2 linked regions of the Homo sapiens genome follow. The protein of the gene in region 1 purifies or fractionates together with the protein of each later gene. This does not show direct contact. Each region holds a gene or a part of one and is shown on either strand. Other genes may lie near its edges.

The links.
Region 2: the proteins of KRT85 (region 1) and PPP2R2B purify together in Homo sapiens (pull-down; one large-scale study listed by IntAct). This does not show direct contact.

The regions. Positions count from the first base shown.
Region 1 is NC_000012.12:52,358,535-52,363,032, forward strand, and holds the end of KRT85 (keratin, type II cuticular Hb5), read right to left. Parts: intron 4,446-4,498; coding exon 4,320-4,445; intron 3,938-4,319; coding exon 3,717-3,937; intron 2,965-3,716; coding exon 2,933-2,964; intron 2,513-2,932; coding exon 2,319-2,512; 3' UTR 1,472-2,318; downstream 1-1,471.
Region 2 is NC_000005.10:146,588,758-146,593,261, forward strand, and holds part of PPP2R2B (serine/threonine-protein phosphatase 2A 55 kDa regulatory subunit B beta isoform), read right to left. Parts: intron 4,306-4,504; coding exon 4,214-4,305; intron 1,470-4,213; coding exon 1,190-1,469; 3' UTR 1-1,189. UniProt on the Homo sapiens protein: The B regulatory subunit might modulate substrate selectivity and catalytic activity, and might also direct the localization of the catalytic enzyme to a particular subcellular compartment.

The DNA.
Region 1 (4,498 bases):
AATCCATGGTGCCGTTATTTTTTGGGTATCAGATTTGGCATTTTTGTTTTGCTCAGCCCAGATCCATGGTAACATGAAGCTGTTTTCCCCAAGCATAGACTCTCTGTAGCATCTCAGAACCATAGGAGGCAGCAGACCTGGTAAGGACTCTACCCACTCATCTCATAGACCCCAGACTGACATGCAAAGCATGAAAGCCACTTCCTGCCCAAGGACTCACCGAGACCTGGCAGTCTTGGCAGAATTGGGGCTCAAATTTCCATTTCCTGATGTTTCAGCCCCTGGGATTTAACGTTTCCTGTGGGTGAATGATGTCCCCTAAATTGAAAGTTGGCCTATTGTGATTGTCACCATGCCCTCAGGGCCCAAACAGCTGGGAAAAAGGAGGCAGCAGGCAAGAGACCTGGAGGAGGCCCGCCAGGTGTCAGCCAGCAAACCTCAAACAGAGCAGCAGCCTAAGCACTCAGAAGCAGCCAGCAGCCTCCAGTGGGGCTACAGCCCTTTGGGCCTAAAGTGAGGATGCACAAGGCCCTATCTTCTCCTCTCAGAGAAAGAGGCTGCAGGATGGGGCAGCAGGGGGCTGGCAGACACCTGCTTGATGACGGTGACAGCTAATGGGGAGATGGAGCTGAGGGCAAGAGGACTGGATGTCTCTACCTCCTGCTGCACCAGCTGCCTGCATTCATCCAGCACATCCCAGGCCTGGCATATCTTGGAGCCCCATCCTGGGACTCAGTGGGAGGTCAGAGCCAGGAGGAGATACTTCCTGTCCTTATGGAATTTCCAGCTTGATCCAGACACACCCGTTGACATCCCTGGCCCAGATCCGCAGAGACAAAACCAGAGATTCTCAGGGTTCCAGACACTATATGATGGGGGCGGGGGAGGGCTGGGGGGTGTAGGGGTGAGGGTGGTAGCTTTGGGGAGCAGAGGAGGGCCCTGAGCAAAGGCAAATGGGAGGAGGGATGTGGGATGGCCTATGTGTCCACAAGGGGTATGTAGGAGAGAGTGTCTCTGGGCTGCCTCAGAGGGTAGACTTGTCTCCTTGGGGTGGAGTCCATGACTGGGAGGATGAGCACCGCATGGAGGGGTTGGACAGGGCTGAGGAGTAGCTGGGGAAGGAGGTGACAGAGGAAGCCTGCATTTGGCATAAGAAGCACACACATGTGCCAGGAAGTGACTTGAGCCAGGCAGGAGAGGGTGAGAGCAGTGAGTTTGGGATGGAGTTTTGGCTGCTGGGAGTACGCAGGGTGGGTCAGGGAGAAAGAGGTCATTAGTGGGGAGCTGGGCTGTAGTCCAGGCCTGAGGGGACTGAGGGCGACTGAGTGGAATCAGACTGTGGAAGTGGACAGGAAGCAGCAGAGTTTCTGGGGGGTGACTGGGGAAACACTGCATGGGGCTGGACTGGGATTGGTCATCTGGAGATGAGGCAAGAAGGGAGTGGAGAAGTTGCTCACAAGACCACACGCTCTTGCATTGCAGCGGCATTTATTGAAACACAGATCGAGACAACCCAGAAGGCAATGCACCCATAGACAGTCACAAGAAGGAGACCCAGGAAGTGGCTTAACTCTCTGTCCCGCCAGCTCTGCATTGGACAGTCCCCACCTGCACCCAGCAAGGGGGCATCTGGAGCAGCCATGGAGTCTTCTTTGAAATGTACAAAGGTTCACTGAATAGCAAGACCTGTCCAAAGTGCCCTAACCAGGGGCTGTAGGCAAAAGGATGCCCCACGATAATGGGCTTCTCAACTGCGAGGTCACATGAGGAGCCTGGCTGGAACAGGTTAGCCCAGAAGCAGGAAGGCAGTCTGAGAGAGAAGCAAAACATGAACAGGAATGAACAGGCAAGTGCTTGCTGGGGGACCATTCTTCCCAGCCAGGAGGAGGGGGCTGCTGGGGAGGGACTTTCTCCCTGATTCTCGGGTTGTGGGTGGCCTGGCTGGATGGTTAGGATGGCGCCTCCACCCAGAAGGTGGAGCTTCCGTGCTGACCACCACGCTGGGGGACTGGTCTTGTCCCTGAGAGCTGGGGGAATAATACAAATTGGATACAGGTATTTTGGAGCTAAGTAGGAGTTAAGTGAAGGGCTGGGAATGCCTCTGAAAACAGCTGCCAGGAGGACAACTAGGATGCATCTCCCTAGCATGAAAAGGCGCAGGGGAGCGGCCCGAGGGTCTTTCCCTCTGTAGGTCTTTCCCTCTGTAGGAACATCCAGAAGATTCTGGAAGCAAGCACACATTTTCCATTCACATGCCATTCAGTGCAGTGATGCAGGCAGGCAGGTGCTTGGCAGGAAGCCCTGGCTCCATGACTCTACTAGGCAAAGCGGACCGACCGGCTACTCCCGCAGCTGAAGCTGGAGGAACGAGGCTGGCAGGGGGCACAGGAGTCAGGGGCCACCACCGTGATGCTGCCGCCTATGGCTGAGGGGCCAGAAGTGATCTGGCGCCCTGGGGTGGTGCTGTAGGAGAGGCCCCCACAGGAGACTCCACCACGGGAGCTGCTGACACCTGTGGAGAGAGGAGACATGGAGGGGTGAGCAGCTCCCTGCAATCTCACCCACCCTACAACAGGCCCCAGGGCACTGCAGGAGCTGCCTCCCTCTCCAAGGAATTGGTGGTCAACAATGCAGGCCCTGTCCCTGAGATGCACAGCCCATCTAGGGAACTGGGGCAGGAAGGAAGTGAGGACCCCTGGACCCCGGGGAGCAAAGCTGCCAGGCCACAGGTCCATGGCCTATAGCTCACTGTCAACACTTGCGAAGAGCACTCAGCTCAGCTTTCTCTAACACCTGTCATGGCCCCCACTGAGGAGCCAGGGGAGGGTGAAACAGTTGGGGGAACACTCGAGGCTCCATGGGTTAGGCCAATGAGTTCAGCTTTTCTATCAAAAAAGCCATTTTTCCAGGAGAATTTCAGGCAGATACTCACAGACATTCACAGAGCCCACACCTTCACACAGCCTATGGAGAAAGAAAACTCTGTTAGTTCCAGACACTGAGTTGGATTCCTTGAGACTGATGGTTGCTTGGGGACAGAGAGGGTCATCCTGTGTACAGAGTCTACCCCTGAAAGGCAAGAAGGGCTCCCTCAAATCTGCATTAAATGCTTTCTTTCTTTGATGGTTTTAACCATGAAGACAAGGCTTTCTGATTTTCAGCAGCAGTGGGTAAGATTATGAACAGTGCCCCTAGTTTGAGTGATGGTGGCCAGCCTGGATGGTGCCAATCAAGCTCACAGGAAGGAGAGTTGAATCAGATACACCAGGGTGTGAAGGGGCTTTGTGGTTGATGAAGAGCTAAATGCATATAGAAGTGCATCATCATCATAACACACAGGCCTGTGTGGCAGCAGCTTCAGTAGGAAGCTATTCAACAAGGACGGATTTGGGAGGCATGAGACTTGGGTGCAGGTCCCAGCTCTTCTGCTTATTAACTGCGTAGCCATGATAAAGGCACTGAATTCTGAGCCTGCTTCTTTATCTAAAGATAAAAAGATGGGAAAAACCATATCTATCTTATTGGATTGTGAGGATTATAAAATAAACACTTAGCACAGGTCTAGCACAGAAGCATTCAGTTATTATTATTATTATTATTGAAGCTATTGTATTAGCCATGGCCAGAGTTGTAGCTCACACTCAGCTCAAGGAAATTCACTCCTGGAGGACCACAGCCTCCACCTCTGAAACCCCACAAAGTCCTCTTAGCCCCACCTGTGTTCCTCGCCCTCCAGCAGGCGCCTGTAGGTGGCGATCTCGATGTCCAGGCCCAGCTTGGAGTTCATCACCTCCTGGTACTCCTTGAGCAGGCAGGCCATGTCCTGCTTGGCCTTCTGCAGGGCGCCCTCCAGCTCAGCCAGCTTGCAGCGGGCATCGCTGAGGGCCGCCTCACCCTGCTGCTCTGCCTCAGCCACAGCAGCCTCCAGCTTGGCACGCTATCAGGTGGAGATACAAGGGCCAGGATGAGAAAGAGAAGCCACAGCTTGGCTCACCCAAGCTGATGGAGCCAGGGCAGGGAGAGGAGGGTCCTGGAGAGAAGGTTGGCCCGTGGCCAGGTAGTTAATGGGGCTGTGAATATGAGGGAGGAGATGGGTGGGCTTTTCATCATCTCTCCTTGATGGCGGTCACAGGGTGGCCAAGGAAGGGGCTGGATCCTCCTTTGGAAGTCAGTGACATGGTCTGATTGCTGTGAAATATGATAGAGCCCCTCCCTTCCCTCTGGGTCCCTGCTTCCTCATGGGCACACTGTGAAGCCTGATTAGGGCCAGGTGCTGCAGCCTGCCTGTGCTGCGTATTTGAATCCTCCACAGACCCCACCTGGCACTTGGCATTCTCAATCTCGGCCGTCAGCCTCTGGATCATGCGGTTCAGCTCGTTGATCTCCTCCTTGGTGCGGCGCAGGGTCTCCCCATGCCTGATCACCGTGGCCTTCATCTCCTCACACTGGAGGAAGTAGAGATGCTCATGAGGCTCAGGGTGGGGCCCCCCATCCATTC
Region 2 (4,504 bases), on another chromosome or scaffold:
CCCCACAGTTCATTTCTGTAGAAGAGAGCCTTCTGGTCTGTTTTTCCAGATGGCGAGCTTGGGGTGAGTTAGAAGTGCCTGATTGGACTTCACAACTCAGCGTTTTTATTGGCTATTTTTGTTCTAGGTACAATGGAGGTTGATGGATTGTTACTTTTGGTTACCAAAACCAGGAGGAGGGGAGGGTGCTGCTTAGGAGAAACACCCAAAAAGAACAGACCAGCCTTTCTCAGGGACTCAGGGGTGGTGGCACTGCTTCCAACTTACTGCTTCATTTAGAACACCAGATAATAAGCACCCAGGACTCGGCCTTTAGAAGTCAATGGAATAAATAAGCTGGAAAAGGTTGAAGAGAAAAAAGCCAAGGAACATGTAAGTAGAAGATTATATGGAGCCATTTAAGAGCACAAAAAGCAAGAGTAACAAGGCAGCAGATGGAATTTGGCCCCGCCTGGCCCTGCCAAGCTCACTCTGGGAAGCACTGTGTCGAAAGTGCTCTCTTTCTGTCCCCTGAAGCATTCAAGTTCCCTAGCCAAATTCTCAGGCTGTTTCTATGGAGCTTACAAAAAAAGAGCATAGCAGGGTTGATGTGCCCTTTCCTTGTCATTCTGCATCCTCTTCTCAGCTTCATGCAATAAATCTCTGGCTTAAATGAAATTGTTCAAAGGAAAATGGAAAATGGAAAAAAAAATGGTGGAGGGGCAGGAGATACTGACTAGTTCTGGTTTTTCACAAAACAAGAAGAATTTGTCTAAGAGTAAACGGTGTTTATTTTTTGTTGATTTTTTTCAATCAAATGGAATTGCTTAATTAAAAAAAACTTATCTCTTTTCTCCTTAAATACTACAGACAACCTCATTTTATCGCAGCAGACACCTAGGAACAAAACACTGGACCCACCAGAGAAAACTGGGCAATAAAAGCATCAGAAGTTCAAGTCAACTATGGAAGAATTACTGTTAGCTGGCAGCTTTCAATTCTAAACAGAAGTGTCCCAAACCTATTGGGTTTGACAAAAGTTTCTTAGAACTGGGGAGCTGGGAATGTTGGACTCCTTTTAATTCTATTCCAATCATTTCCTGTATAGGGAAATTAAAGTCAATGCATCAAATGAAGACCCAAAGAAACATTTAAAAACTTGTTTGACTAGTATTCAGTATGTGAGATTATTAAGTAATAACTTGTCCACCTAGTTAACCTTGTCCTGGAATATATATAGGTTATTTGTAGCCGCCACTGCTATAATATTTTCTGAAGGATGCCAAGCTGTATGCAAGATCTTTTTGCTAAAGTCCAGACTGTCGACACTGATCTCGTCTTTTCTCCGCTTGCCCCCCACACACACTTTTCGGGGTTTGAGGATAGCCCGGGGCTTGCTGTTTTCCCTCGAAGCCTCAAGGGTCACATCACGCTTGGTGTTTCTGTCGAACATCCTGAAGAAGTTGTTGTAGGAGCCTGTCATGATGACACTGCAAGGCAGAGAGCAAAGGCAATGACATATCTTCACTGTCTTTTCTTTTTGGAGCAAATGATACCATGTTATGGCCAGCTTATGACACCATAGGTTTTATTAAAAACAAAAACCAAAAAATGAGAACAGGCTCTGCAGTGTGATTATTGGCTTTTTGTTTTTTTTTTGTGTTTTTTTTTTTTTTTTTTGAATCACTGAAAGCAATAGGATTTTTGGCTGGGTTTGGAAATGAGGGATGGTGAGAACTCTCCTTGTAATTTGCTTTTGCTCAATAGATTCTTTTTGCTTCTTTGGCTCAGAAAAGGTGTCCACTGGTTTTAATGATCCCAGTCCTACCTACCTCCCATCAGGAATGTGAGACTAGAATGAGGTTTGTCGAAGTAGACACACTTTTGAAAACAATAAGCAGTTGTACGTGTTTAAGGTTTGGCCACTGTCAACAGGGTTCCTGGGCCGTCTGGCCTCTAAGGCTTCATGGCATCAGTGCAGTGAGGGGAGAGATGCTAGTGGCATCGTGCACGAACCCGGGGCGCGACCTCTCCCCTGCCGAGAACTAGCTCTGAATTCGGCCTTTTTAGAAAACTTATCTACGAAATGGATGTCATCATGGTCTTATCTAGGAAACAAGTAAGGAAATTCAAATTTTAAAAGAATCTGGGATGGAGAAATAAAAAGATTTTATATGGTTTTTTTCCCACACTTAATGGACAGATGGTTTCCACATTTTTATAAGTTATCCCCTCTTAGGCATAGCTGCAATCGATCAGGAGAGTGGCAAACACCCAATGTCTTCCAGAGGCAAGGTACTGAATGTTTAATGGTGACATTTCAGACACGGTGACAAGCTGAGGTGGGGAGGGAGAGATTCCTTGGGCCAGGGCAAGTACCCCAAGTGCCATCACACGGTGGTTCCCCTGGAGTGGGGGGCTCCTACTCATTTCTGGGTGGAGCTCTGACTGGCTCCTTAAGATGGGAGAGCAGGAACTCTCGTGTATTTCTCAAATGATTTGGGATGTGTAGAGAGGTGAAGGAAAAAGCTGACAAGATTGGGCCACAGCAAGGGGGATGTGTTTTTGGGCACGTTGTCACCTGTACCAGGTAAATTAAGCAAAGGTTAGATTTTGTTACTCTGGCTCATCAAACTGATACTGTGAACTGTGTCTGTGTACTCGAGTGGACTGTTATCACCTTGTCAGGCAGGGCGCTGAGGGCTTTGCCTCCATGATCTCGTTTCAACTTCTATTATCCCCTAAAAGGGTTTTACAGAGAAGTAATTTGCTCAGTGTCACATTGCTAATTGGTGGTAAAGTCCACCCTCAAACCCACATATGGTTGACTCTGGGGCATAAGTATTCAGCCGGTTGGCCTCACTGCTTCCCATACTTTGACGTTTGCTTGCCCACCATGACCCGACTTATTTTTAAACAAGTAAGAGATTATTTTCCAAAAAAAAAAAAAAAAAGACTACCAACCTTATCTGAAAGAGAAATTAAACTTCCCAGTTGTGATGTTATAGAAAGAGTGTTGATCTTAGGATTCAAACTCTAAACTTGTTACTTTTGTCTCTACTACTTACTACTTTATGAGGTTGGGCAGATTACTTTATCTTGCTAAGCCTCAGTTTCCTTAACTGTAAAATGAGAACGATGGAAGCAATCTTGTTAGACTGTGGTTGGGATTAAATAAAATGATGTGTACGAATGTGTTTGGTATATAGTAGGTGCCTAATAAGTGTAATTTTTGAATCAAGGCTAAGATAGAGGAAAAACTTGAGCAATAATAACAGATATGTAAATAATAATATATGAATAAATAAATACCTATAAATAAATAATAAAATGAGAGGGCTGGCTTCTTTTTCCCATGGTGGATTTTGTTCTTATGTCACAGTTGCTTTGCTCTCTGTCCTATACCAACTGGTCAGTGTGACTTGGGTCCTTTGCCACGTGGAGACTCCTTCCAAGCCTGCTAAGGAGGGGATTCATTTTGGATCAGTGGCAAAGAAAGCCAAGAAACAGGTGGAGTGTGAGAGAGAGACAGTTCATATTCACTGAAAGCTTGAATCTCTGAATGTCTTGCCATAACAGAATTTCTATGCTTTCAAACACTATTATTGGTGCCACCTTCATCAAGGAACGAAATCAGCCCCTGGTAGCTTGCACTTAGTTCTCATGGAAATCAGAGAATCATTTGTATTTGTCAAACTAAAAATGAACTATTGGGAGGTATTATGAAGCACTGTTCAAATCAAAGGCCTTAAAATAGTAATAAATCACTTTGAGGGAATGTGATAAATGAGGTTGACTAGAATTCAGTTAATGAACTACCAGGGCCGTTGGCCAGGTCTCCACTAGCAGCTTCAAGGGATAATTTTTGATCTGGAAAGCCTACTTGGCATTAATCTGAACTGTTCAGGCTGGAATTTGCTGGTGGATAAGTGATCTTCATTTAGGCATGTTGACCTAGTGCTGGAGGTGTCTTGTGTGAAAAAGATAGGACTTTCTTATTAACATTAAGGTGTTATCTGTGCCAGTTCAGAAACAGGATTCAAAGGCCTTACTACATCCTTCTCTTCTTTCCAGCCTTGACTTCAAGGGTCACTAGGGGCCCACATTATGCATTTCAGCCAGGTTTTGGGGCCCAATTTTGACCTCCCTTTGGCTGTACTCTACTTAGGATAAATTCCCTGAGCCTCTTCAAGACAATCTTTGGAAGGTTCTTCAGCCACAGAGCCTTTCTTACCTGTCTGACCCATTCCACACACACTCAAATTTATCAAAAATGCAGTCATTTTCATAGAGGGAACACAGCTTGCTGCGGAGGTAGTCATGAACCTGGAGAGGAAACATATCGAGAAGGTCAGTTATTATTTTAAACAGTAATTATTTCTGCAAACACCTCCTCTTCTGATGTGAGCTGTTAAATCTTTCATTGTACATGCTCTTTGAATCAGATGGCCTTGGATCTGAACCTAGGCTTGGCCCTTTTAGCTGTAGGACATTAGGATGGGTTGATGAGCTTCTCATGTAGATG